2 separate regions of the Homo sapiens genome follow, and region 2 is linked to region 1. The links come from fine-mapping of genetic effects on gene expression. A gene starts in region 1. The other region holds a variant in brackets. All regions are shown on one strand. Distances are from middle to middle.

Region 1 (4,398 bases):
TTGCTCTTCCCTACTTTATGTTCATCTTCCCTTCTTAACTGCTTGCCCTGCGAACATAAAGAAACATAGTGATTCCACTTCTCTGAATGAACCTTGGCTGGTATACAGACTTATAGACATTTTGTGATGGAGAAAAATTGTTAATTAGGGAGCCTCACTTAGTAAAGAAGGAAGGTCATCTCTGGTATGGCAGGAATAAAGACATAAGGATTTTAAGGGATTTACCTGAAAAGATTTAAATGACTACTGTAAGGGGAATAAATACTTTGCAGGAATGCTGAAACTTCTCATTCAATACTTAGGTAAACATATAGACACACAGATGCCATAAACACTCATGGTAAACATCAGTAACTGTTAAGAGCATTCCTTCCTGCTTGGTCCCTATTAAAGAACCAGATCCCTTCTCCATAGAGTATTCCAATTTGCAAAGAAAATCCATTCATTAGTTGTCCAATTTAAATGTTTTAGAAATATTCAGTGGAACTTTCATCAATAACCCCCAAACAGATACCTCAAGAACCCCTTTTTCTAATCATTTAATCATACTACTTACTGAGAAAAATTATTATAGGAAAGGCAGTATTTGATATTGGGACATAAAAAGAATGAAAAATCTGTTAAATAAGCAAAAGCCCATTAGCCTGAGGCTGTCTTGGTACTTGAGTTCCCATATAACAAAATACAACCTGACTTAGTATGTAAACGAACTGAAGCCTAACTTACTTTATTTTTTATAACAGCTGGGTTTCAGCCAATCACGGCCGAGCTTCAGCAAATAACAGACAGCCAACTGATCAGACCATGCCCCAATAAGGCAAATGCCTCATCATATCATTGTCAAATAAGGCAGACACCTAGATGTTAGCTAATGAGGTGATTTCTCTACTTTGCTTCCTATAAAAGCTAGCAGGTCATACTGCTGGACAGAGCTCTCTGAACCTCTTTTGGTTCTGAGTGCTGCCCAATTCATGAACTGTTCTTTGTGCAAATAGCTTCTATTAAATTTGTCAGTCCAGAGTTTTTTTTGTTTTAAACAAATATTCACAAGAAAAGGAAGAAAGTGGGAAGAATAAAAAGCAAAGCACCTCAGAAACACAAGATCGAAAATCCACTTAAGGGATATAGATAATTCCCTGAAACAGGTGAGCATATTATTTGTTGAAAGCCTCCATGGATGTTCTTTGGGATAGCAAAATGGTTGCTACTTTTCAAATTGGATACCAAAAAGGCAATGTATCTGCATCTCAGAATCCAAATCATCCCCACGTTAGCCAAACTCCAGGCCTACCAACACAGATCCTTCAAGTCTTCCTGGCCTTCCAGGCCCCTAGGCTGCAGCTCGCCCAGAACTCCTGGGACTCTAAAACTTAAATCGGTCTAACCAGCAGGCGAACACAGACCTGAACCCTCAAACTTGGAAAGAAAGATCATAGGCACCTCCCCGGTTGGCTCCCCCAGGGACCACAACGTCCGGCTCTAACGCCTTGCCCAAGTCCTCTGTAGCTTTCCACAGGCATTTCTGGGTCTCTATAGCTGTTTGGAGGAGCCACTCACCGGTCCCGTCCTGCCCCGCGCCTAGGCCTGAACCAACCCCCTCGCGGTTCCGGCGCGGATACCCAGCAGCTTCCGGTCTTGCGCGCTCAGGCCGGGCAACGTCCGTGCGTTCTTTTTGGGTCCTGAACCCCGGAAGAGAAACTGCGTTGTACCCTTTTACGTGAGGCGGTGACGGCGGTTCGGAAGTCGTCTGGCCTCCCCGCGGCCGCTCGCAGCTTGCTGGCCTCTCCCGCGCCTCACGTCGGACTCCGTCTCCGCGGCAGGGAAGCAGCATGGAAGCTGAGGACATCCAGGAGGAGTTGACCTGCCCCATCTGCCTGGACTATTTCCAGGACCCGGTGTCCATCGAGTGCGGCCACAACTTCTGCCGCGGCTGCCTGCACCGCAACTGGGCGCCGGGCGGCGGCCCGTTCCCCTGCCCCGAATGTCGGCACCCATCGGCGCCCGCCGCGCTGCGACCCAACTGGGCCCTGGCCAGGCTGACTGAGAAGACGCAGCGCCGGCGCCTGGGCCCCGTGCCCCCGGGCCTGTGCGGCCGCCACTGGGAGCCGCTGCGGCTCTTCTGCGAGGACGACCAGCGGCCAGTGTGCCTGGTGTGCAGGGAGTCCCAGGAGCACCAGACTCACGCCATGGCACCCATCGACGAGGCCTTCGAGAGCTACCGGGTGAGCTGGCCGTCGCGGTGACTATGACGGGGCTGTCAGTGTTGCCCGATAAAGTTTACTTAATGCTCCTAAAAGAGCCACGAAGTGGCTGTCATTCCTACTGGAAGCATGAAAAGCCCCTGAAACTCAAAGAAGTTAAGCAAAACACGAATTTCAGAGCTAGGGTTAAAACTGGAATGAGAGGAGGGGAGGTGCAAACCTCAGCAATCATTGTGCAGAATTTTCAATAAACTGGCCCTTGGGGAGCTCATAATAAAGAAAAACATACTGAGAGGGTGTGTGCCGCTGCTGTCCAATAGAAACCACATATGTAATTTAAAATCTTTCTGGTAAGATAAGGAAACGAGGTGACGTTAATTGTAATAATATATTTTATTTAATCTGATTACCCCAAATATTCAAAGCTGAGATGAAAATTATCAATGAGATTTTTTTTTTTTTTCTGAGATGGAGTCTCACTTTATTGCCCAGGCTGGAGCACAGTGGCGTGATCTTGGCTCACTGCAACCTCCTCCTCCGGGGTTCAAGCAGTTCTCCTGCCTCAGCCTCCCGAGTAGCTGGGATTACAGGCACACGCCACCACACCCGGTTAATTTTTGTTTTTTAGTATAGAGGGGTTTCACCATCTTGGCCAGGCTGGTCTCGAACTGCTGACCTCAAGTGATCTGCCCCGCTTGGCCTCCCATAGTGCTGGGATTAAGGTGTGAGTCACCACGCCCGGCCTCAATGAGATATTTTATACTCCTTTTTCATAATAGGTCTGAAATTGGTGTGTATTTTACATTTACAACACATAGCAGTTTGGAATATCCACGTTTCAGGTGCTTGTATGGCTAAATGGATACTGTATTGGACAGTGCCTGTCTGTATCTGTAAATGTCATAGACAGCTGATGATTTGGGAAAAGCCTAGCTTGTAATGATGAGGCTGGGTTTTGTTACTAGCTTCCTTCATCAGTTGGGAAAATCCTGTAACATTTGAATTTGGGGATTATCTGTCCTATCTCATGGGTTAAGAAGCTCCGGTTGAATAAATCACTTTACCTTACTCTGCTTCAGCCATACTGGCTTTCTTGCTTTTGTTTCAAGTCTGTTCTCTTTCTCTACCCACATCTATCCTTTAGATCCTTTTAGCTTTTAGCTTGAAGACCTTCCCTGATCATCCTTTCCAGAGTAGCCCCACCCCCTCCCATTACTGATGGTGTAACTCCAGTGGTCTCCAGCAGAATTGATATGCAGTAAGTACATGAACACATGAATTTATTTATTTATTTTATTATTATTGTTTTTGAGATGGAGTTTCGCTCTTGTTGCCCAGGCTGGAATGCAGTGGTGAGATCTCAACTCACTGCAACCTCCACCTCCCGGGTTCAAGTGATTCTCCTGCCTCAGCTTACCGAGTAGCTGGGATTACAGGCACCTGCCAGCATGCCCAGCTAATTTTGTATTTTTAGTGAAGACAGGGTTTCACTATGTTGGTCAGGCTGGTCTCGAACTCCTGACCTCAGGTGATCCACCCACCTTGGCCTCCCAAAGTGCTGGGATTACAGGCGTGAGCAAGCTTTCCTGGCCAAACACATGAATTTAATGACACAGTGAAAATGTTTGGAAACTGTAAAATACTGTACAGTTGTACCAGCTGACTATGAACAGGAAACAGACACAAAGCTGGACTAGAAAGTGTATGTTCATTCCTTCACTCAGTAACGTTTATTGATGCTTACTATTTGCCAAACATTGTTTTAGAATCTGGACATAAGTGGATGAGAAAGACATGGGCTTTGTCTTGTAAGGAACTTAAGCGTGTACAACATTAATTTCAGTGTGTGTGAGAGTAGCTGAAGTATTTACCAAGTGTACAGAAGGTCTGAGGTCGGAGTGATCACTGAGGAGTGAGGAAAGGCTCCGTTGAGGAGTTAAATGTGTTAGCTCTTCAAGGGTGAGTAGAGGTAGGAAAGAAGGTATTTCAGGCCAAAGGAACAGCATATTCCAAATGTGGTGGAGTGGGATAGCATGTGGTGTGTGAGAGGACTGGAGGTTGCTCAGTACTTCTGGAGCATGGAGCATGGGAAGGAGGATGGTGGGCCATGAGCTTGAAGAAAAAGGCAGGGCCTTATCATGAAGGATCTTGTTTGCCATAGTAAAAAGATTGAACTTTCTCTTTCAGGCAGTGGGGA
Region 2 (4,398 bases), 36 kb after region 1:
GGTCTAAAACTCCTGACCTCACGTGATCCGCCCTCCTCGGCCGCCCAAAGTACTGGGATTACAGGTGTGAGCCACCAAGCCCAGCCAAGTATTTTGTTAAGAATTTTTCCATCTATGTTTTTTTTAAGGATATTGACCTGAAGTTTTCTTTTTTTGTTTTGTCTCTGCCATGTTTTTGTATCAGGATGATCCTGACCTCATAGAATGAGGTAGGGAGGAGTCCCTCTTCAGTTTTTTGGATAGTTTCAGCAGGAATGATACCAGCTCTTCTTTATACATCTGGTAGAATTCAGCTGTGAATCCTTCTGATCCTGGGCTTTATCTGGTTGATAGGCTTTTTATTACCAATTCAATTTTGTAACTTGTTATTGGTATGTTCAGATTTTTAATTTCTTCCTGGTTCAATCGTGGGAGATTGTATGTTTCCAGGAATTTAGCCACTTTTAGTAGGTTTTCTAGCTTGTGTGCATGGAGGTGTTTGTTATACTCTCTGAGGTTTTTGTTTTTTTTAAATATTTCTATTGGGTCAGTAGTAATGTCCCCTTGTCATTTCTGATTGTGTTTAATTGGATCTTCTCTCTTTTTCTTTATTAGTCTATCTAGCGGTCTATCAATCTTACTTATTCCTTCAAATATCGACTTCTGGTTTCATTGATATTTTGTATGGTTTTTTTGCACCTGAATTTCATATAGTTCAGCTCTGATTTTGGTTATTTCTTGTCTCTTACTGACTTTGGATTTGGTTTGCTCTTGTTTTTCTAGTTCCTCAAGGTGTGATATTAGGTTGTTAATTTGAGATTCTAGCTTTCTGATGTGGGCAGTTAGTGCTATAAGCTTTCCACTTAATACTGCTTTGGCCATGTCCCAGAGATTTTGGTATATTATATCTTTTGTTCTCACTAGTTTCAAAGAATTTCTTGATTTCTGCCTTCATTTCATTGTTTACCTAGAAGTCATTAAGTAGCAGGTTGTTTAATTTCCATGTTATTGTTTAGTTTTGATTGCTATTCTTATTATTGTTTTCTATTTTTATTGTTTTGTGGTCTGAGAGTGTGGTTGGTATGATTTTGGTTTTTTTGAATTTGTGGAGAATTGTTTTATGGCTGATTGGTTGATTTTAGAGTATGTGCCATTGCAGATGATAAGAATGTGTATTATGTTGTTTTTGGAATGGAGAAAACACAAATAAATGAAAAGACATTCCATGTTAATGAATTGGAAGAATAATATTGTTAAAATGTTCATATTACCAAAGCAACCTACAGAATCAGTGCAGTCTCTATCAAAATCCTGATGGTATTTATTACAGAAATAGAAAAAAATCCTAGAATTCACATGGAACCACAAAAGGCCTCAAATAGCCAAAGCAATTTTGAGCAAGAAAAACACAGCTGGGGACATTACAAGTCCTGATTTAAGACTATATTCCATAGCTACAATAATCAAAACAGCATGATACTGATATAGAAGTTAAAAAGGAATTATTTAGGCAGTTAGTAAGGGTAAAAGAATTCTCAGTGGAATTTCCTTTTAATAAAAAGCAGCCCCCACATCATTTCTTTTCTAACAAAAATCAACCTGAAAAATCAAGCTGCAAGCATTGATACACAAGCTGGAAGCTTGCATAGGTGAATACTGGCAGCCGTGCCGATACCAAAGAGATACCTGGAAGCCAGGTACATCCAACATGGAGGTTTTCTCCTCCCTTCTCTTTGTTGCCAAATGTGCAGATGTCATGGTGCTGGCCAGGTGGAGATCCCACCTGTATAATAAAAGATTAGGGTGGGATGGCCAGCCTAATCACGGGCTATGTAAATGGCACACCTGGTCCAACCAATCCCATGGGCCCTATGAAAATCAGACACTGCCTTTCTAAGCCCCTCTATAAAGTCAACTGCATCTCACCCCAAACCTGGAAACCCACTTTGGTTCCCTTCCTCTGCATGAGGAAGCTCTGTCTTCTTTCTTTCACTTTAATTAAAGTTCTGCTCTTAAACCCACTCCTTGTATGTGTCCTCATATTTGATTTCCTTAGCACAAGACAACGAACCTTGGGTATTTCCCCAGACAAATGATGTCGCTTCAGTATTGGCATAAAAACAGACAGATAGACAAACAGAACAGAATAGGCAGTGCAGAAATAAACCCATGCATATACAGTCAGCTTATCTTCAACAAGTGTGCCAAGAATGCACAATAAAGACAGGATAGTCTCTTTTCCATCCTGGCCAACGTGGTGAAACCCCGTCTCTACTAAAAATACAAAAATTATCTGGGCATGTCGGCATGTGCCTGTAATCCCAGCTACTTGGAAGGCTGAGGCAGGAGAATTGCTTGAACCTGGGAGGCAGAGGTTGCAGTGAGCCGAGATCACGCCATTGCACTCCAGCCTGGCAAAACAGTGAGACTCCGTCTCAAAAAAAAAAAA[AG/G]AAAAGATAGTCTCTTTAATAACTGGTTTTGGGAAAACTGGATATCCGCATGCAAACAAAGAAATTAAACCCCTCTCTTACACCATACACAAAAATCAGCATAAAATGAATTAAAGACCAAAATGTAAGACCTGAAACCATAAAACTCCTAGAGGAAAACATAAGGGAAAAGCTTCTTGACATTAGCCTTTATAATGATTTCTTGGGTATGACACCAAAAGAAGGCAACAAAAGCAAAAACGGGCAAGTGGGAAGACATCAAACTCAAAAGCTTCTGCACAGCAAAGAAACGATAAAAAATAAAAATAAAAAGCCCACCTATTGAATGAGAGAAATTATTTGCAATCTGTATTAGGTTATTCCTCCATTGCTATAAGAAGTACCCAAGGCTGGGTAATGTATAAAGAAAAGAGGTTTAATTGGCTCATGGTTCTGCAGGCTGTACAGGAAGCCTGGTGCTTGTGTCCGATGATCTTCTTGGGAGGCCTCAGGGAGCTTTTACTCACCGTAGAAGGCAAAGTGAGAGCAGGTAGGTCACATGGAGAAAGCAGGAGTGAGAGAGAGTTGGGGAGAGTGCTACACAATTTTAAACAACCAGCGAATATCAGTGAAGCAAAACATTTTAGGATTTGAGTTGAGATGGAGAAACAAAGAAGAGGTCAACATATCCCTATAATGGAAAGGAAGGGCAGGGTATGAGAATGATATCGGAGTGCATAAGAAGGAGAGGTAGGGTTATGCCATTTTTTCCTTTTCCCTCTGTGTCTGAAATCTTTTTCTTTCTTTCTTTCTTTTTTTTTTTTGGAGATGAAGTTTTACTCTGTCACCCAGGCTGGAGTGCTGTGGTGCGATCTCAGCTCACTGCAACCTACACCTCTCGGGTTCAAGTGATTCTCCTGCCTCAGTCTCCCGAGTAGTTTGGACTACAGATGTGTGCCACCATGCCTGGCTAATTTTTGTATTTTTAGTACAGACAGGGTTCTGCCATGTTGGCCAGGCTGGTCTCAGACTTCTGACCTCAAGTAATCCACCTGCCTCCATCTCCCAAAGTGCTGGGATTAAAGGTGTGAGCCACCGCACTCGACCTGAAATCTCTTGACATGTTATATTCATGTAGTCTATGAAATTGGAGTACGATCAACAGCTAGGATGGGAACTGCCTGCCTCTATTCCTTGACTTCTTTCCTATGATATGGCACATGGAAACCCTCAAAAGGGTCCTGTGGGCAAAAGAGACTAGATATTATTACTCAGACTGTCTTCTCAAAAGGGTTGCGTGGAAAGGCGTTACAGAAATCTGGGTTCCCAAGTGAAAAACAATCAAGGGACTCTAAGAATTTTTTATCTCCACAGTTAATTGGCCCCTGAGGAGAATATTCTCCTGTTATCTTCAGGCTCACTCCGCAAAATATCTCATTCTCCTGATCACTTGGAACAAACTCCAAGTAAAGCCCTTTGGGGATGCTTATCTCAGTGCATACAGCACAGTCTAATTGACATCTTGAGTAATGGTCTCCAGAAGCCATGCAAGATGTGTCCTCTGGGATGGAATCCCTGACGCCATTCTATTTAGTGTCCACAATTTGCTTCAGCTGACATAGGTCCTCTGGGTTAGGGGGATGTTTTATTTCTCCCAGATGATGTCTGTTTTTTCTTATGATTGGCTCACATCAGACCAAGAATGTTCTTACTCTAACCCCCATGATTACTATTGAGAAGACATTTATGCAGTCAGAAAAGTGCTTCCTGACTGCATCAGCCAAATTCATATTTTATTAAGTAGGGAAGGAAGTGTAAAGCTAAGAAGAGAGTGCCTTGAGAGATCCAAAACAATGGAAAACCATAACAGATTTTCTTTTGACTCTGGGCACATTCATGATTAAACTGGTATTCAGTTTACCTTCTTAATAAAGTAATATTAATGGAAATTCCTATTGCCCAAGCTCCGATATTGGAATGGAGGGTTGTC

Direction of the effects. Positions count from the first base shown, and alleles are read on the strand shown. Sizes are in standard deviations (SD) of each study's normalised expression.
For the expression in lymphoblastoid cells of the gene that starts at base 1,701 in region 1, allele AG in region 2 goes with a lower level than allele G (moderate effect, 0.58 SD a copy in GENCORD).

The links. PIP is the estimated chance that this variant, and not a neighbour inherited with it, causes the effect.
Region 2: its variant is the best candidate, but not a certain one, in a credible set for the expression of TRIM4 in lymphoblastoid cells (GENCORD, PIP 0.68).

The regions. Positions count from the first base shown.
Region 1 is chr7:99,916,833-99,921,230 of GRCh38, reverse strand. TRIM4 (tripartite motif containing 4) reads left to right here and starts at 1,701. Exons shown (of 6, transcript NM_033091.3): 1 at 1,701-2,222. The coding sequence starts at 1,830. It overlaps LOC101927610 (a long non-coding RNA gene), which reads right to left and starts at 1,628. Exons shown (of 2, transcript XR_001745296.3): 1 at 1,404-1,628; 2 at 1-47. RefSeq lists enhancers at 1,330-1,439, 1,680-1,759, 1,790-1,839 and a silencer at 1,970-2,129.
Region 2 is chr7:99,881,045-99,885,442 of GRCh38, reverse strand. No RefSeq gene overlaps it. Among named protein-coding and RNA genes, the nearest start is that of OR2AE1, 6.2 kb to the right of the region's middle. The variant AG/G (reference allele first, on the strand shown) is at 2,429.